Homo sapiens: one gene and its partner. The protein of the gene in region 2 interacts with the protein of the main gene of each other region in a biochemical or structural test. Each region holds a gene or a part of one and is shown on either strand. Other genes may lie near its edges. The genes, in order: NSMCE2 and ETV1.

Region 1 (3,822 bases), on a different chromosome or scaffold from region 2:
TGGACTCAATATATGGGGAAGGTAAGTGTCCTCAGTTTTTGGAGAGAGATTACCCTCTTCCAAAAGAGTGCTTGATTCTGTGAAGAAGTCAACAATAGCACAGTTCTTAAAAGCCTACAAGATAAATGGGTTAGAAAAAGTAGACCACTCATATGATGCAATTTTCCAAAGAGAAAAAAATACTAATAAAATAGTTTATTAGTAAACTATTTTGAAAACCTGTAATCGTTAAACTATCCAACATATATGCATACTGAATTCTGGAAACTGTAAAAAAAAGAGAAAATCTATATTCCTGCCAGTTCCTCTGGCTTCTAACAGATTAATAGACTTGGTGAGATCCCAGAGTCAGTGAAAGCAGAATTTCTGTATAAACTTGTCTTCTGGCAGCACATCCACTATAACAGTTTCAGTTATTACCTTCATATTTAACACTTCCTAATCTATATCTTCAACCACAATTTGTTTCAGCTTAGTAAAGCAATGTAAAGCTGCCTACAAAAGGACATCTCTGCTTAATTCAGAAGCCATTTGAAACTCAATCCACTGAAACCAACTAGAAAAGTGGGGAGAATTCACAGTTTTAAAGGGATGGGAGGGCTATTAACAAGGCTCTATGGCAGCAGAAAAAGGGGTATTTTCATGGAATCAGATAGACATAACATGAAGACTGCTAAACATCTCTGAATCTCAGCTTTACCATCTTTAAAATGGAAAGGAATAACCATGGTATGGTATAGCATACAGTACACAATTAATTAGCATTAGAGCCTTCCCTTCTGCCCTTCCTAAGTGGGGAACTGTGTAGTATCTCTGGCATTTCCATCCTCATCATTGCTACCACCTTCATCTCACAGCTGAACTACTATTGTAGTTTCTCCATTATTAGTCCTTTTTAATTAGGTTCATTCATTCATTTCACTCATAAGTATTGAGTACCTACCATGTCAATCATGAGACCCATTCAAAAATCCACAGGATATAAAAAGAGAAGGGCATAGAGACATGCAAGATGCACAGAGATGCATAAGATTTCTAATTTGAAGTGTTTGTTTACCTCAAACATCCACAGTACAACTCATTGTCAGTTCAAATATTTAGTATCTCTTTAAGTGCCAGGCACTTCCTTTAGCATGAGAATACCACAGTTTTCAAGATGAGCACTCTTAAGACACTCTCCTTTTAAAGAATTATTTTGTTATTCTAATTTGATGAAAACCTATCATGAGCCAGGCACTATCCCAGGCACTAGAAATATTCAGCCTTTGGCCAGGCGCAATGGCTCACACCTGTAATCCCAGCACTTTGGGAGGCTGAAGCAGGAGGGTCACCTGAGGTCAGGAGTTCAAGACCAGCATGGCCAACATGGCAAAACCCTGTCTCTACTAAAAATACAAAAATCAGCAGGGCATGGTAGTGGGCACCTGTAATCCCAGCTACTCGGGAAGCTGGGCAGGAGAATTGTTTGAACCTGGGAGGCGGAGGTTGCAGTGAGCCAAGATCATGCCACTGCACTCCAGCCTGGGCAACAGAGCAAGACGCGGTCTCAAAAAAATAAAAATAAAAAAAATTCAGCCTCTACTCCCAGGGGCTCACCACTGAGTAGGAGAGACAGAGATAAAACATAAACCTGATAATTAAAGCAACATGGGAGTTACTGCAAAGCTGAGGCACAGATAAGAAAATGCTCAACTTTGCCTGACTGGATCAAAGAAGGGAACATAGAACTGAGTTTAAAGGATAAAAGACGAAGTTTAACAGATGGAAGGGTAATGGAGAAGGGCATTCAGGCAAAGGAAAAGGCAGGTAGGAATGAAGTGCACAAATCATTGCAGAGTACATAAGACAATACTTGACTTTTCCTGATTCTATTATGCTCTTTTACGACTCCTCTCACTAGAAACTTCCAACACTTCCTCCTCTATCCTCACTCTCACTGAAAGATCTAGTTTCCTAATTTCCTGAGGAAACAGAAGCAGTCAGAATAGAAATTTTGCAAGCTCCCACCGCTTACCTCTCCACCTATCAGCATCAGTTCTCATACACTCTGCTTTCCCTCCTGTTAAAATGAATAAACTGTTGCTCCTAGATAAGGCCACCTCCACTCCAATTATCCACTAGATCCTATCCCTCCCTCCCTACTCTAAGACATTCTCCCAGCAATTCTCCCTGCTTTCCTGCATCATTAAATTTTCCCTCTCTACTGAATCATTCCCTTCAGCAAACAAATACACCATTACTTCTCCCATCTCAAAAACATCCTCCGACTTTCCTCCCACTTACCCCTCTGGTTACCAGCCCCATTTCTCTACTCAGCCTTAGAGCAAAACTCGTCTGTAGATTTGTATACATTTGTCTCCAAATCCTCTCCTTCCATTCCCTTTGGAACCCACCCCCACTAGGGTTCCATCTCTATCACTCCACTGCAACTGCTCTTGTCAAGGTCACCTGAAAAGACTTAATGTTAAATTTGTTATCAATGCTCAGCCCTATCTCCTTTGACCTATCAGCCAGCAGTATGCAACACAGTTAATCACTCCCTTCCTGATGCACTTTCTGCACCTGCCTACCTTGTTCTTGTTCTCATTCTCCTTTCTGTTTCCTCTCCATCTCCTTGAGCTCCATATGTTGTAGGGTCCCAGGTTCAGAATCCAAGCTTCTTTTTCTTCTCCTTCTATACCCAAATCAAATACAGCCCTGCCTCAGGGCTATGCCTTCTTGGTTCCCTCTGCCATGATACTGGTCCCCTAGATATCTACTAGGTCAATTCCCTTACTTCTCTAAGGTCTCCCTTTGAGTATCACCTCATCAGTAAGGCCTTCCCTGGCCATCTGATATACAACGGCAAGCCCTCCCAATCTCCACCCCCAGGCATTCCCACCCTTCTGCTTCTGCTTTATCTTTCCTCAAGGCAGGTATTGCCAAACGACATTCTTGTATTTATTAGGTTTATAGTGTCTAGTCCCCAATTACACTGTAAGTTCCTTAAACTTACAGACTTTTTGACTTTTTCTGTTTTGTTCACTGCTGTATTCCAAGCACCTAAAACAACGCATGGCACATTAGTGGCCATTCAACAAAGGCTTGCTGAAAGAAGGAATGAATGTAATACTATGTATCTCCAGCACCTAAAACAGCACATGTCTCCAAAACTGTAGTATAGGTGGTATGCCCAGGGCTCAGTGCTCTGATCTCTCTTTTCCATCCTCTCCCATCCACCTAGTGTTCCCAACTAGACCCATTCCATCTAAATACCATTGGCAAGATCACTCCAGAACTTAAAACGTCCAACATGGAAGGCCCACATTCCTTCTCTCCCACCCTACCCCTCCCCCAAACCTACTCCTTTTACAACCTGCCCCATCTTACTAAATAGCAACTCCATCCTTCCATTTGTTGAACCAAAACTCTTGGTTCATACTTGATCCTTCTCCTCCTCCCCTCATATCCTATACCAAACTCAACATCAATTTTGCCAGCTCTGTAGTCAAACTATCTCCAGAATCCAACCACTCTCACCAATTCTGCTGATAACACCGTGATTCAAACCATCATCTCTTGCCTGAATTACTCCAACAGTCTCCTACCTGGTCTCCCTGCTCTCAGTCTTGCCTCTTCCACCCTATTCTCAACACAGCAGCCAGAGTAAACCTTTGAAAATGTACGTAAGATCATGTGACTCCTCTGCTCAAAAACTCCTAAGGACTTCCTGACTCACCGGGAGTAATGGCCAAAGAGCTTCGTAATAACTGACAATAGTGGTTCTCCAAATGGTTCCTGACCAAGTGTCACCAGCATCACCTATGAACTTGTTAGAAATGC
Region 2 (3,822 bases):
ATTTGCTGGCTCAGACGTTAGAACTTCCATGATCCTTAAAAGAAAAGGCTGACTTCGATTTTCAGTTGCTTCCTGTTTTCTCAATCATGCCTTCAAAATGTATAACAGTTTACTACCTGCTCCTCCTGTCTTTTTCATCTCAACCCTGGGGTCATTTCTAATTCCTCCCTTTCTCTCACCTACCTTTTTGTAGTAAGATCCTTCAAATACATTCCATTCCTTTCTTTTCACCACCATCTTCCTAATGCGGGGGCACATTGCCTGGGCTGTCACAGATGGTGCTCAGCAGTGTCCCCGGGCAGTATTGCACAGCAGTAACAGATAAGGCAGTCAGGAATTAGGTTTGAATGCTAGCCTCTCACCAGATTACATTCTTGAACAGATTATTTTCCTAGTAAATGGTGATATTCTTGCCTCATTAAAGTTGCTGTGATTATTAAATGAAATAATGTACTTGAGATACTTTACATTGTAACTGGCACAATGTAAAGTATATCTGAACTCCTGGGCTCCAGCAATCCTCCTGCCTCAGCCTCCTGAGTAGCTGGAACTACAGGTTTGCATCACTGCACCCAGCTAATCACATTCTCGGATATGTACCATTCTGATGTTCAAGTAAATTCTAGTATAGTCATTCAGAGGAAAACTATGCTGTCCTTTTTTAAATAGCAAAAACTATGATGTTGAATTATATATTTTAACATGTAGGAGAAAATATTTATATGGCTATATTTGTTCACTAACTTAAAACTTTGTGGGCATATGTGGTGTATATAATATAGAAAATTAGAAGATTAGAGAAAAATAAAAATAACTTACATCTGAACATGTTAAAAAAATTGAAAACTGGTAATTAATTTTAGTAATACGGAAGAAGTAAGAAACAATGGAACAGTGTATGTTTACCTTACAGACAATGCCTATGTGTACTTCTATTTCAAAATTAGGAAATGCCTAGAACAATATATACCAATATGTTAATGGTGATTATATTCTGGATGATATAATTATAGACCCTTTGTTTTAACTTAATTGATAATTTCTAATTTATCCTTCAGTATCCCCATATTACTTCTGAAATTTTAAGAGATAAAACATAATTTGAATATCCAGCCATTGAAAGCACAGCTCTAAAGCTATCTCCTTGTTTACTTTTGATTTATCTCCCTGGAAAAATTCCTGTTTTTTCTGTCTGTCTCAGTGTTGCATTTTGGCTATACTTAATGTACAGCATTTTGCACGTTAGTACTTCTGTTACTCATAATGGAAGACATCATTCCCCTTGGTTGGTTATCATCCCTTGTTCTAAACTCAGTAGCATTTAACATAGTCCAGCAAATGAAGTAGTAGCCCTAAAAATGTTTATTCAAAAGCAATACAGAAGGAAGCAGTGAGGAAAGGCAGAGTCCTTGAGAGATTGCATAAGCTTGATTGCATGTTACACATTTTAATTCATTTATTACATAATTTTTAAGTATAGCCAGTAGCAACCCGTCAAAGGAAGTCCAGTACTTAAAGCAAATGTATCTTCCTCCACAGCCCCAAACAAAACAAAGCACATTATAAAACACTCAGAGGTATGCAGGCCATTTATTTTATTTTATTTTTTCTCCAAATACTTTGAACAAAGAAAAAAATAAAGGAAAACTAGGATTTACTATCTCAGCTTTGTTCCTGATAGTGCTATTTTTATGTTTATGGTCATTTCATCATTTCACCTTTAAGATCTTAATTTTCTTTGTATGAAGGACTAAAGTAAATAAATGTATGCCAGACTCCTCTGTTTCTGGCACAGTGCTCTGTGCTGGAGACTTCCATCCCAACCTTGCAATGGGCTTTCTGAGGCGCCATTCCTGTCTCCATTTCACAGCAAAGGCCACTGAGAGGTAGTCTAAGAAACAGGTCCAAATTCATAAAAACTACTAAATGTTCATTCTTTCAAACCTAGGTACATTCAGATTATTTGAATTCTCTAAAGTGGTTCCTCTTACTTAAATTCAGGGCAAAAGAAACAAAAAATGTTCTAAATTTGAATTCAGAGCAGCAGCATTCATTGACAATTGTTACTTTTCCCTCAAAGATATAACAATACTTTATAACCCAGGAACACACTGTTGCCCCACATCAAAAATCAACTAGCAAATGCCTTGTTGATATACAGGAACATGGAGGTGTTGTGTCACCTTCAGCTTTCTAAAATCTCATACCTTTACACACACCCATACAAAGTGACTATCAAAGTTAATAGAAAGAACTGTATTCATCCACCCATCCCCCCACCCCGGGTTTTGAGAGCATCTCAGCATTGTCTATTAACAAGAGGCGTATTCATCTCACTCAGTTGTTTATAATTTTCTAGGGAAGCATTACTCTTCAGAATTTAAGTTTGGGGTATGTCATACCCTATAAATTATGCTACTTCTTTATTCCAGGCAGTTGTCACATTTCTTTTTCTCATTTCCTCCCTGTGCATTGTGTATTTTAAATTCCTTTCACTTTTTTACACCTCTTACTTCAATTTGACACTTTACACACATCCTTAACTCTGTCTAATGCATCTTGCCTTCATTTTTAAAAGTGATGTACCCAGGATACTGTCCTTTTGATCCATCTTTCATTTAAATGAGGCTGTGTATCCTTTCTTTCTTTCTTTCTTTCTTTCTTTCTTTCTTTCTTTCTTTCTTTCCTTTCTTTCTTTTTCTTTTTCTTTCTCTCTCCTTTCTTTCTTTCTCTCTCTCTTTTCTTTCTTTCTTTATTTCTTTCCTTTCTTTCTTCTTTCAACACACACTGCCAAAAAAGAAAAAAAGTAAAGAATCCATTTATTCTGTGAATCAGTGAATTACTAGTCTAGTCTTATTGGGAATAAAGCACATTTTTCTTTTAAATTTTGAATTTAGTTTTTCTACCATTTCAGATATGTAATATTAAGAGGGACAGTGTACCTTAAAAGTACAGATTTGTAGATACTACCTTTTAAAATGCAGAAAAAAAGCTTTCAATATGAAATGCCTGCATTAAATAATTGACTTTTTTTCAAAACAACGATGTAAGTTTACCTCTATATTAAGACAAGCAAATTCCTGTGCTTCCTAGCTATATCTGGAATTAATTAATTATTATTCAAGGTCAACATTTTGCATCTCCCTTGACTGAACTGTAGTTTATTCCACAAAGTAAAGACTTTTTTTTTTTTATGTGTATCTGCTATTAGTTGTTTGCTTTTTTGGGCCAGAGTTACCCATCCTTTCCTGTATATTAAACCACGTTTTTGGCTTTTTCCTTCCTGTCCTTCCCCATCTGGCGATGGTGAGGATGGGTTTTTCTCTTCCATGTTATCATCAGGTGGCTGGAGAGAGATATGTCTACAAGTTTGTGTGTGATCCAGAAGCCCTTTTCTCCATGGCCTTTCCAGATAATCAGCGTCCACTGCTGAAGACAGACATGGAACGTCACATCAACGAGGAGGACACAGTGCCTCTTTCTCACTTTGATGAGAGCATGGCCTACATGCCGGAAGGGGGCTGCTGCAACCCCCACCCCTACAACGAAGGCTACGTGTATTAACACAAGTGACAGTCAAGCAGGGCGTTTTTGCGCTTTTCCTTTTTTCTGCAAGATACAGAGAATTGCTGAATCTTTGTTTTATTTCTGTTGTTTGTATTTTATTTTTAAATAATAATACACAAAAAGGGGCTTTTCCTGTTGCATTATTCTATGGTCTGCCATGGACTGTGCACTTTATTTGAGGGTGGGTGGGAGTAATCTAAACATTTATTCTGTGTAACAGGAAGCTAATGGGTGAATGGGCAGAGGGATTTGGGG

What was found.
Region 1: of the proteins of ETV1 (region 2) and NSMCE2, one has a biochemical effect on the other in vitro, tested with the Homo sapiens proteins (one study listed by BioGRID).

The regions. Positions count from the first base shown.
Region 1 is NC_000008.11:125,098,306-125,102,127, reverse strand, and holds part of NSMCE2 (E3 SUMO-protein ligase NSE2), read right to left. Parts: intron 2,675-3,822; exon of another isoform or gene 2,571-2,674; intron 115-2,570; exon of another isoform or gene 78-114; 5' UTR 1-77. UniProt on the Homo sapiens protein: E3 SUMO-protein ligase component of the SMC5-SMC6 complex, a complex involved in DNA double-strand break repair by homologous recombination. Is not be required for the stability of the complex.
Region 2 is NC_000007.14:13,895,608-13,899,429, reverse strand, and holds part of ETV1 (ETS translocation variant 1), read left to right. Parts: intron 1-3,342; coding exon 3,343-3,564; 3' UTR 3,565-3,822. UniProt on the Homo sapiens protein: Transcriptional activator that binds to DNA sequences containing the consensus pentanucleotide 5'-CGGA[AT]-3'. Required for olfactory dopaminergic neuron differentiation; may directly activate expression of tyrosine hydroxylase (TH).